Homo sapiens: one gene and its partner. The protein of the gene in region 2 interacts with the protein of the main gene of each other region in a biochemical or structural test. Each region holds a gene or a part of one and is shown on either strand. Other genes may lie near its edges. The genes, in order: RPS6KA3 and ILKAP.

Region 1 (3,909 bases), on a different chromosome or scaffold from region 2:
GGCAGGGCAGCGGCTGCCGCCAAGCACACCACTCATCAGAGCCTGCCCCGTTCCACCCCCGCGTTTCAGTCATGCTTTCCAGAAATGGGGTCACTCACTCAGTAACTATTACACACACGCAGCCTATCATCCTGTAATCCCCTAAAGTCCGCTGCGGGGAGAGAAGGCAGCAAAAAGTCAAGAAGGAAGAATCACAGACGCGCCACCATCAGGAATTGATTTTCCACTCCGGAGAGGAGCGGTGATACCTTGGAACGGGTCTTGTCTGGATTATTTTCGCAGACCCCGAGTTGTTCTGGGATAGGGGCGGTTCAGGAAAGCTCGGTGTAGTGATGCGCCCGGGGAAATTCTGTTTTGCCCTGTTTGGGTATATTGTTTGGGTTTTGGGCACTAGGATGGGTGACTCAGGGACGGTCACCAGATCCCGGGCGAGGAAAACCAGAAAGCCTTTTACGGCGGCCGCTGATCTCCTTGAATATCACCCTCTCACCTCCATGGACAGGAAACTCAAGTTAAACTCACAGGGACGGGGGTCTAGCTCTGCGACCTCAGAAACGGAGGGGGTAGGGGACCTTAGGCTTCCGCTTTCTTCTTTGCAGCAGCAGAAACCGCTGCGGCAGACGAGGGGGAGGCAAAACCCTGCACCCCCTACCCGAAACCCCCACAGGTCGCCGCCGCCCGTGCCCCGCGCGCCGGTCTCCCCGCAGCAGCCCCTCCCTCGGCTGGACTCGAGAGTCCCTGCTCCCCGGTGAACCCGATCCCTACCCCTCCCTCATCTCCCAAAGTCGCCAAGGTCCGGGAAAGCCCCCGACCCGGCTGGGCCAAACTTCCCAACTCCCCGCCGGCCCCCGCTCCGCCTCCCGCTTCCCCCACGCAAAGTTGATTAAAATTGGCTTCTTGCAAAGCCCCAGCGCCCACTCCAAACCCCACGCGCCACCACACTGGCAGCCCCCCGAGCGAGGGAAGGAGGTGAGGGTGAGGATGGAAGGAACAGACAGACCGGCCAATAGACCCACCCCAACAACCCAAACCAAAACCCTGAGCCCGGGGGAAAGACGCGAGCGGGATCAGAACGGGCCGAGTGGCCAGCTCCGGGGAGCGAAGCGAGCCGGCGGGGGCGCGAGGAGGAGATGCGCCGGCCCCGGCCGCCCTGCTGCACTCACCTCAGCGCTGTCGGACGGGCTCTCCACAGCCATCTTCTGCCACGGGTCCGCCAGCTGCGCCAGCGGCATCTTCCCCCCCGGCCCGCCGCCTTCACCGCCTCCTCCCTCCCCGCCCGCCCCACGGCCGGCCCCGCTCCGTCGCCGCCCGAGCCCCACGGCAGCGGCGGCGGCGGCGGCGGCGGCGGCAGCGGCAGCGGCAGCGGCAGCAGCAGCAGCAGCGGCGGCGGCCCCAGAGAGGGCTCGACGCCGACGCCGACCGCCCGAAAGCCGCGCGCCTGGCCAGAGACGCCCGCGCGCTGAGCGAGAGCCTCGCGCCTCCGCTGGGCACCGGGTCTCGCCCCTTTCTTCCTCTCCTCCTTCCGCCGCCGGGACTACGGCTCCGCCCCCCCCGCCGGTTCCCGCGCCCGCTCCCAGCAGAACAGCGACCGCCGCGCGCTCCCCCACTTCCGCTCACAACATGGCGCCTAAGCGATACCTGTCTCTCAAAGCGAGGCTCGGCCGCCGCCACCACCGCCGCGCGCACCCAGGGGCTGGGCTAGTGGAAGACACGCCCCCGGCCGCTGCGCTCCGCTCCTCCCTCTTCCCACCCCCCTCCTTCTGCGCCCCAACCTCAGCTTCTGGGCCTCGCCTACTTTCAGGAAGGGCGAGCCCAACAGATCTGGGGGCGTCGGCGGGAGGCGGGGGAAAGAAATGGGAAAGGCAGGAGGGGCGAAGGCTGGGAGCCTTTCACCGCCAAGGGTCCAAGGAGGTCGGAGGCTCCTTGGGAATGAGGGAGAACAGTGGTCCCCGCCCAGCTGGGGAGGGAGGTGGGCAAAGTACCGGGGGCGCAGTCCCGAGCCAAGGACCCGGGGAGGGGTGCGGAGTGTCTTTTCGGCTTGTCTCCTCCGGGGGTGCGTGCGTGCGGACGCGCCTAGTCTCTGGGCGCATCCCGTAATGGCCCAAGACCCTCCCTCTTCAGGGTCACATGCTGGGAAATCACCTGCCCCCCATCTCCCCCGACGGAGGCAAGGGAGGCTTCGTGCCTAGGAGCCTCCTGGGGGCTCGGCTCCCGGTTTGATTCAAGTCTTTTCAAGTTGACGCTCTTTTGTTAAATTGTGGCTATTTGGGATTAATTCCTCTTGTATTAGTCGCTTCCCCCGCACCGCCCCCAGCCCAAATTCTCCTCCCCAAGTGCGCAGAGCTCTCGGCCTTCAGCTGCGACCCTGGAACCGCTGCCCCCCGCCCCACGTCTGCTACCTAAATCTTCAAGAGGGGAAAACAGGGAGGTTCCTTAAGGCTGTCCCTCTCGGTAGAGGTTGGAGAATTATTTAAAAATATCTTGTAGGCAGGAGCGCGGGGTTCCTGCTCCTCTGTTGACTTTAAATAAGAGATTAGATTTAAAAATCAGGCTGGCCGTGGGCGGAGGAGGAGGAGGAGGGGGACAGAGGGAGGGGAGGGGTTCTGACTCCTCCTCCTGCCCAAGATGGGGAAGCCCTGGATTAAGGAAACCCAATGCCCCGACGGCGACGGAGCCCCACAGGACGGCGAGAGCTTTGGGGGGAAGGCCTGGGCGTCCGGGGTGCGTCCCAAGAGGACTCGACCCTGTGTTCACTGCGCCAGGAGCCGCTGCGCGCTAAGTGCGCCCGGGCAGAAATGTGTAAAAGTCGCAGGGCTGAGTGGAAAGCTACTGCAGCCCCTGGCTAGTCGCCCAGCGAGGGGAAGAGAAAAAGCAAAGGGAGATCTCCGAGCCGGCCTGTCCCTTCAAACCCTCAGGCCGTGGCCCAGGCATCCCGGTCTTCCCACGCCCAGCGACCACGGCGCGTCCGCTGCTGCGCTCCCAGCGCACGCCTATTAACAGCTTCCTTTCATCCTCCCGGGACCCAGACACCTGGAGAACCCTCGCCTGCCTCCCTAAGCAGGTGTGAGGATGAGATTAGAGCCCCAAACCCAGCCGGCCAGGTCTGCGCGGGCGGTGCGAGGTTTCTCGCTGGGCCTGCGAGAGGCAGGTGTTGGGCTCTTTCTGCTGCCTTCGCCAGCGCGCCCCTTGGCACAGGCTCGAGGCCGGGGAACCTCGTGGCCATTTAGGGAGGCTCCAACTGTTTAGGGAGCCTGAGAAGGCGGCAGGAAGTCCTCGTTGCGCGCCTTCTCCCGAAGCTTTGGACTCAGGGGGACCGCTCAGGTTGGACAACATCTGGGCAGACTCAACGTGGTCTGGGGAAGAAGGCGAATGGGGCCACTTGGCTCTTGCCTTTGTCACTTCCCTTCACATGCTATATTCAGGTGTTGCAAATCCAACCTGGGCCCAAACTCAGCTAATTTGGCAGCACCTTCTCTGTGTAATTCCCGACGGTAAAACGTGCTTGCAGAAGTTTGGAGGATAAGGAGTTGTGTACTATTTTGCATTTATGTACAAAATGCTTTATTCATTTACATTGCAGAGTCACATGACCACTCCTTATAGCGAAAAGAAGTTCGTTAATTCGGTTGGCTTAAAGTAAATTAGCTCCCCCTACCCTTTGATCAATTATTTCAGTTAACATTCTTGCATTAGTAAAAACATACATAGTTGAAGAGAGACCGTTATGTGGCTAACACTGTTCAGTGCTAATTACCCCCACGCAAAGAATGAATATTTTAAAATAAAGCAAATTGTATGCCATTTTCAGTATCAACTTTTATTCATCTCTGTTAACCTTGAGAACCAGAGGAATAACTTTTAAAACAGAGTTACCTGATCTGTAAAAGTAATGTGAGCGGTGGTCACGTT
Region 2 (3,909 bases):
AAGGTCAGGACTGAGGTCAGCAGTTCAAGATGAGCCTGACCAACATGGTGAAACCCTGTCTCTCCAGAAATACAAAAATTAGCTAGGCATGGTGGCGGGTGCCTGTAGCCCCAGCTACTTGGGAGGCTGAAGCAGGAAAACTGCTTGAACCTGGGAGGCGGAGGTTGCGGTGAGCTGAGATAGCGCCACTGCACTCCAGCCTGGGGGACAAAACCAGACTCTGTCCCCAGCACCCAAAAAAAGTATTTAGGATAACCATTACTCAATGTATTAATCCACTTACAAGAATTCCTAATATCCCGAAGTAGGTCACTTTTGCCCAAACATTGGGTCTAACAATCACAACGCCCGTTCTCCGGACAGACTCAAAAACCACATGAGATGTTCCAGACAATCACGCTGCATTCAGTGGTGTCACAGAGCCAGATGTCTTAGGACAAGGGAGGGGACATTTACAGGTAACAGCCCAACATGAAGAGCAAACAACCCTTCCGCTTGTACCAGGTCATATTTTAACTTTTGAATTAACTTGCCCATCTAAATCAGGTCTTTCCACTGCCACTGTACAAGGGAGGAAGTCTTCTTTTACCCAGGTAATAAATATATTTTCAGTTCTTGTAAGCATTCCTCACAATGCAACTTACAGCTTAGTATTAATACTAGCCTGGCCGCCTCTCCTCTGGCTACAATTCAGTCAGATGGTGCCCCAAACTGAGCCCCATCCCCAGAGAACTGCCTATCACCTTCTTTCTCACTCTGGAATACTATGAGAGGTATTTCAATTAAACACAATGAGACCATCCTACATTTTGCTGGCCACAACTGGGAATGGCTTCTAAAAATGATAATACTGCCTGCCTGTCAGGCACTATTCTAAGAGCTCCACACATCTTCTCATTTAATTCTTATGAGATAGGTACTATTATTATTTACCGATGAAAAAACTGAGGCACTGAGGTCAATTACCTGTTCAAGATCACAGAGCCAGTAAGGAGTGGAGTGGGGATTCAAAGCCATGCAGTCCGTGCTTTTAGTGAGGTACTATGCTGCCTCCATACATGGGCACCCTTCCAGAAACTTCATAAACATCAACTCATTTTACCCTTACAACAATCCTATGATGATAATCCTGAGATTTTATAAAATCTCTGGAAATAATTTTTGCATCATCAAAAGAATCTAACTTAGAAGTCTGTATGTGGATTCTTTAAAAAAAAATCTATAGGTCATAGATACATAAGGAAACTACTGATTAGTCAAAACCTTAGATTTTTTTTTTTTTAAATTGAGACAAGAGTCTCGCTCTGTGAGCCAGGTTGGAGTGCAGTGGTGTGATCACAGCTCACTGCAGCCCCAACCTTCTGGGCTCAAGCAATCCTCCCTCGTCAGATTCCCGAGTAGCTGAAACTACAGGCATACACCACCATGCCCAGCTAATTTTTTAACTTTTTGTAGAGACGGGGTCTCACTATGTTGCCCAGGTTGGTCACGAACTACTGTACTCAAGCAATCTTCCTGCCTCAGCATCCCAAAGTGCTGGGATTACAGATGTGACCCACTGCTCCAGGCCCTTACATTCTATTTTGAATAAACTGAAATTCAAAGCATTGGGGGCTGCAATCATTGGACAAAGTGTGACCCTGACCTAAAAATCTGGAAGAGGCCCCTCCCCTAATCTTAAAAATATTAGAACCCTAATAAGAATACAAGACTAAAAATGTCCATTAATCATAGTTAATCTCATCTAGAACTTTTTTTTTTCCTCAGTTATCTACATTCTGGAGCTAAGTCTACTGGAAGTTATATACTATGCTGAGAAAAATACCCTTGGGTTGATCATATTCAGGTTAAAGGTTGCTGTATCCAATAAAGTTAAAAAAGGATGTTAAAATATTTTGGCTAAATTGTTTTTTATACCTCAATTTTTTCAACTATAAAATAAATCCAGGTGTTTTCCAAACACCACAGAGGTATTATCAGAAAAAAGGGGGGACAGGTTCCGCCACACCCCCCAACCACAGTATGAGTTTAGTGTATCCTTTCCACTTTCCTTAATGCTCATGCACATGGACTCATGCATTTTAATTTGTAGAAGACAGAGTCATACTCTACACAATACTCCACATATAGTGTTCACATAACCCATCAAGGCATGCTCCAGGCCAACACACCCAAGTCTAATTCATCCTCTCCAACAGCCACACATGGGAAGCATCTCCACTCATTCGACCAGATCCTTACTGATGGGTTCAAGCTTTTCCCAGTTCTTCATATGATAAGTGACGCCACAATCAACAATCTGATACATGTATTCCTGCTTAATCTGCTAGACTGCTCGTCAAAGGATATTAGTTTAAATCTGATAGAAGCCAAAATCTGTTCCCCAAAAAGTTGTAATTTTCACTCCCAAAACACTTTATGAGAAAGTCTACTTCGCTACACATTCACCAATGTTACCAACTGTTGCTAATCTGATGGGTGAAAAGGTAAATAGTTCCTCAGCAACTTTCTGTTGATGGGCCATTTGTATTCCTTACCTCTGAACTGGGAGGATACATCCTTTGACCATTTTTCTAGTGGGTTTTATTTTTTCCCATCAATTCTGTGAGCCTTTCTTATACCCTTAGTAATGTATATTGCAATTATTTTCTCGGTTTGTCTTTTGCCTTTATAGTATCATTTGTCCTGCAGAAATTTTAAATTTTTACATAGTCAAATTCACTTTTTTATGACTTTTTTCTTGTTCAACCCTGTAGTTTTACAATCTGTTTTCCTCTAATACCTTAACCTTTATGTTCAAATATTCTTCTTTTTTTTTTTTAATCGTAGAGACAGGGGTCTCACGAAGTTGTGCCAGGCTCTTCTCAAATTCCTGGCCTCAAGCCATCCTCCTGCCTTGTTCCCCCAAAGCGCTGGGATTACAAGTATGCGCCATCGAGCCCAGCCTCCAATTTTTTTAAAGTATTTTTAAGATGGTGTGGCCATCAAATATTTTATTTCCTCCTCAACAACTGACCATCAATTTTTAAAGTACTAGTGTAGCAACCAAATAAGTAAAAGAACCACCCTATAAAAGTGAAATCAAGTTACTGGCGAAGCAATTTTAAACCATGACACCTTCAACTGACATACATGGATTGTCAATATAAGCTGCCAATCTTAAAGACATCAGGTCGGCACTTTTATGGGTATGACATAGGAAAGTTCCATTTCTGCCTGATATGAACAAACACTTTTTTTTAGGTAAAATATATACATCTCTCCTTTAAAAAACTTGATTCATTCAGCAATTAAAACTTTTAAGGGCTTGGATGAAAACTACTAATTTAGCAAAATACCTGAAATATTTAGTGCATTCTATGTATTTTTCTAGATTATAAACATTTAAGAGGTTTAGGGGTGGGAACATTAGATGCAACGTTTAAAACAAAAATAAAAAGATCTAAACAAAATATTAATACATTTGATGTGATATAAGCAGTGTAGTATTCTCCCTTTGGACACTCAGTGCTTTCCCATAATTCATTTAAGACTGCGTTTTTCCACTTTTAAACAACTGTTAATGGCTCAGCCAGGCACAGTGGCTTACCACTGTAATCCCAGCACTCTGGGAGGGCCAAGGTGGGCAGAACACTTGAGCCCCAGGAGTTCGAGAGCAGCCTGGGCAACATGGCAAAGCCTTGTCTCTACAAAACATACAAAAATTAGCTGGCTGTGGTGGTGCGCACCTGTAGTCCCAGCTACCAAGGAGGCTGAGGTGGAAGAATCACCTGTGCCCACGGAGGTCGAGACTGCAGTGAGCTGTGTTTATGTCACTGCACTCCAGCCTGGGCGACACAATGAGGCTGTCTCAAAAATAATAACCCTGGCTAACATCTATAAAACACTATACATTCTACCCCACACTAT

What was found.
Region 1: of the proteins of ILKAP (region 2) and RPS6KA3, one has a biochemical effect on the other in vitro, tested with the Homo sapiens proteins (one study listed by BioGRID).

What each region holds. Positions count from the first base shown.
Region 1 is NC_000023.11:20,265,401-20,269,309, forward strand, and holds the start of RPS6KA3 (ribosomal protein S6 kinase alpha-3), read right to left. Parts: upstream 1,510-3,909; 5' UTR 1,233-1,509; coding exon 1,164-1,232; intron 1-1,163. UniProt on the Homo sapiens protein: Serine/threonine-protein kinase that acts downstream of ERK (MAPK1/ERK2 and MAPK3/ERK1) signaling and mediates mitogenic and stress-induced activation of the transcription factors CREB1, ETV1/ER81 and NR4A1/NUR77, regulates translation through RPS6 and EIF4B phosphorylation, and mediates cellular proliferation, survival, and differentiation by modulating mTOR signaling and repressing pro-apoptotic function of BAD and DAPK1.
Region 2 is NC_000002.12:238,196,969-238,200,877, forward strand, and holds part of ILKAP (integrin-linked kinase-associated serine/threonine phosphatase 2C), read right to left. Parts: intron 1-3,909. UniProt on the Homo sapiens protein: Protein phosphatase that may play a role in regulation of cell cycle progression via dephosphorylation of its substrates whose appropriate phosphorylation states might be crucial for cell proliferation.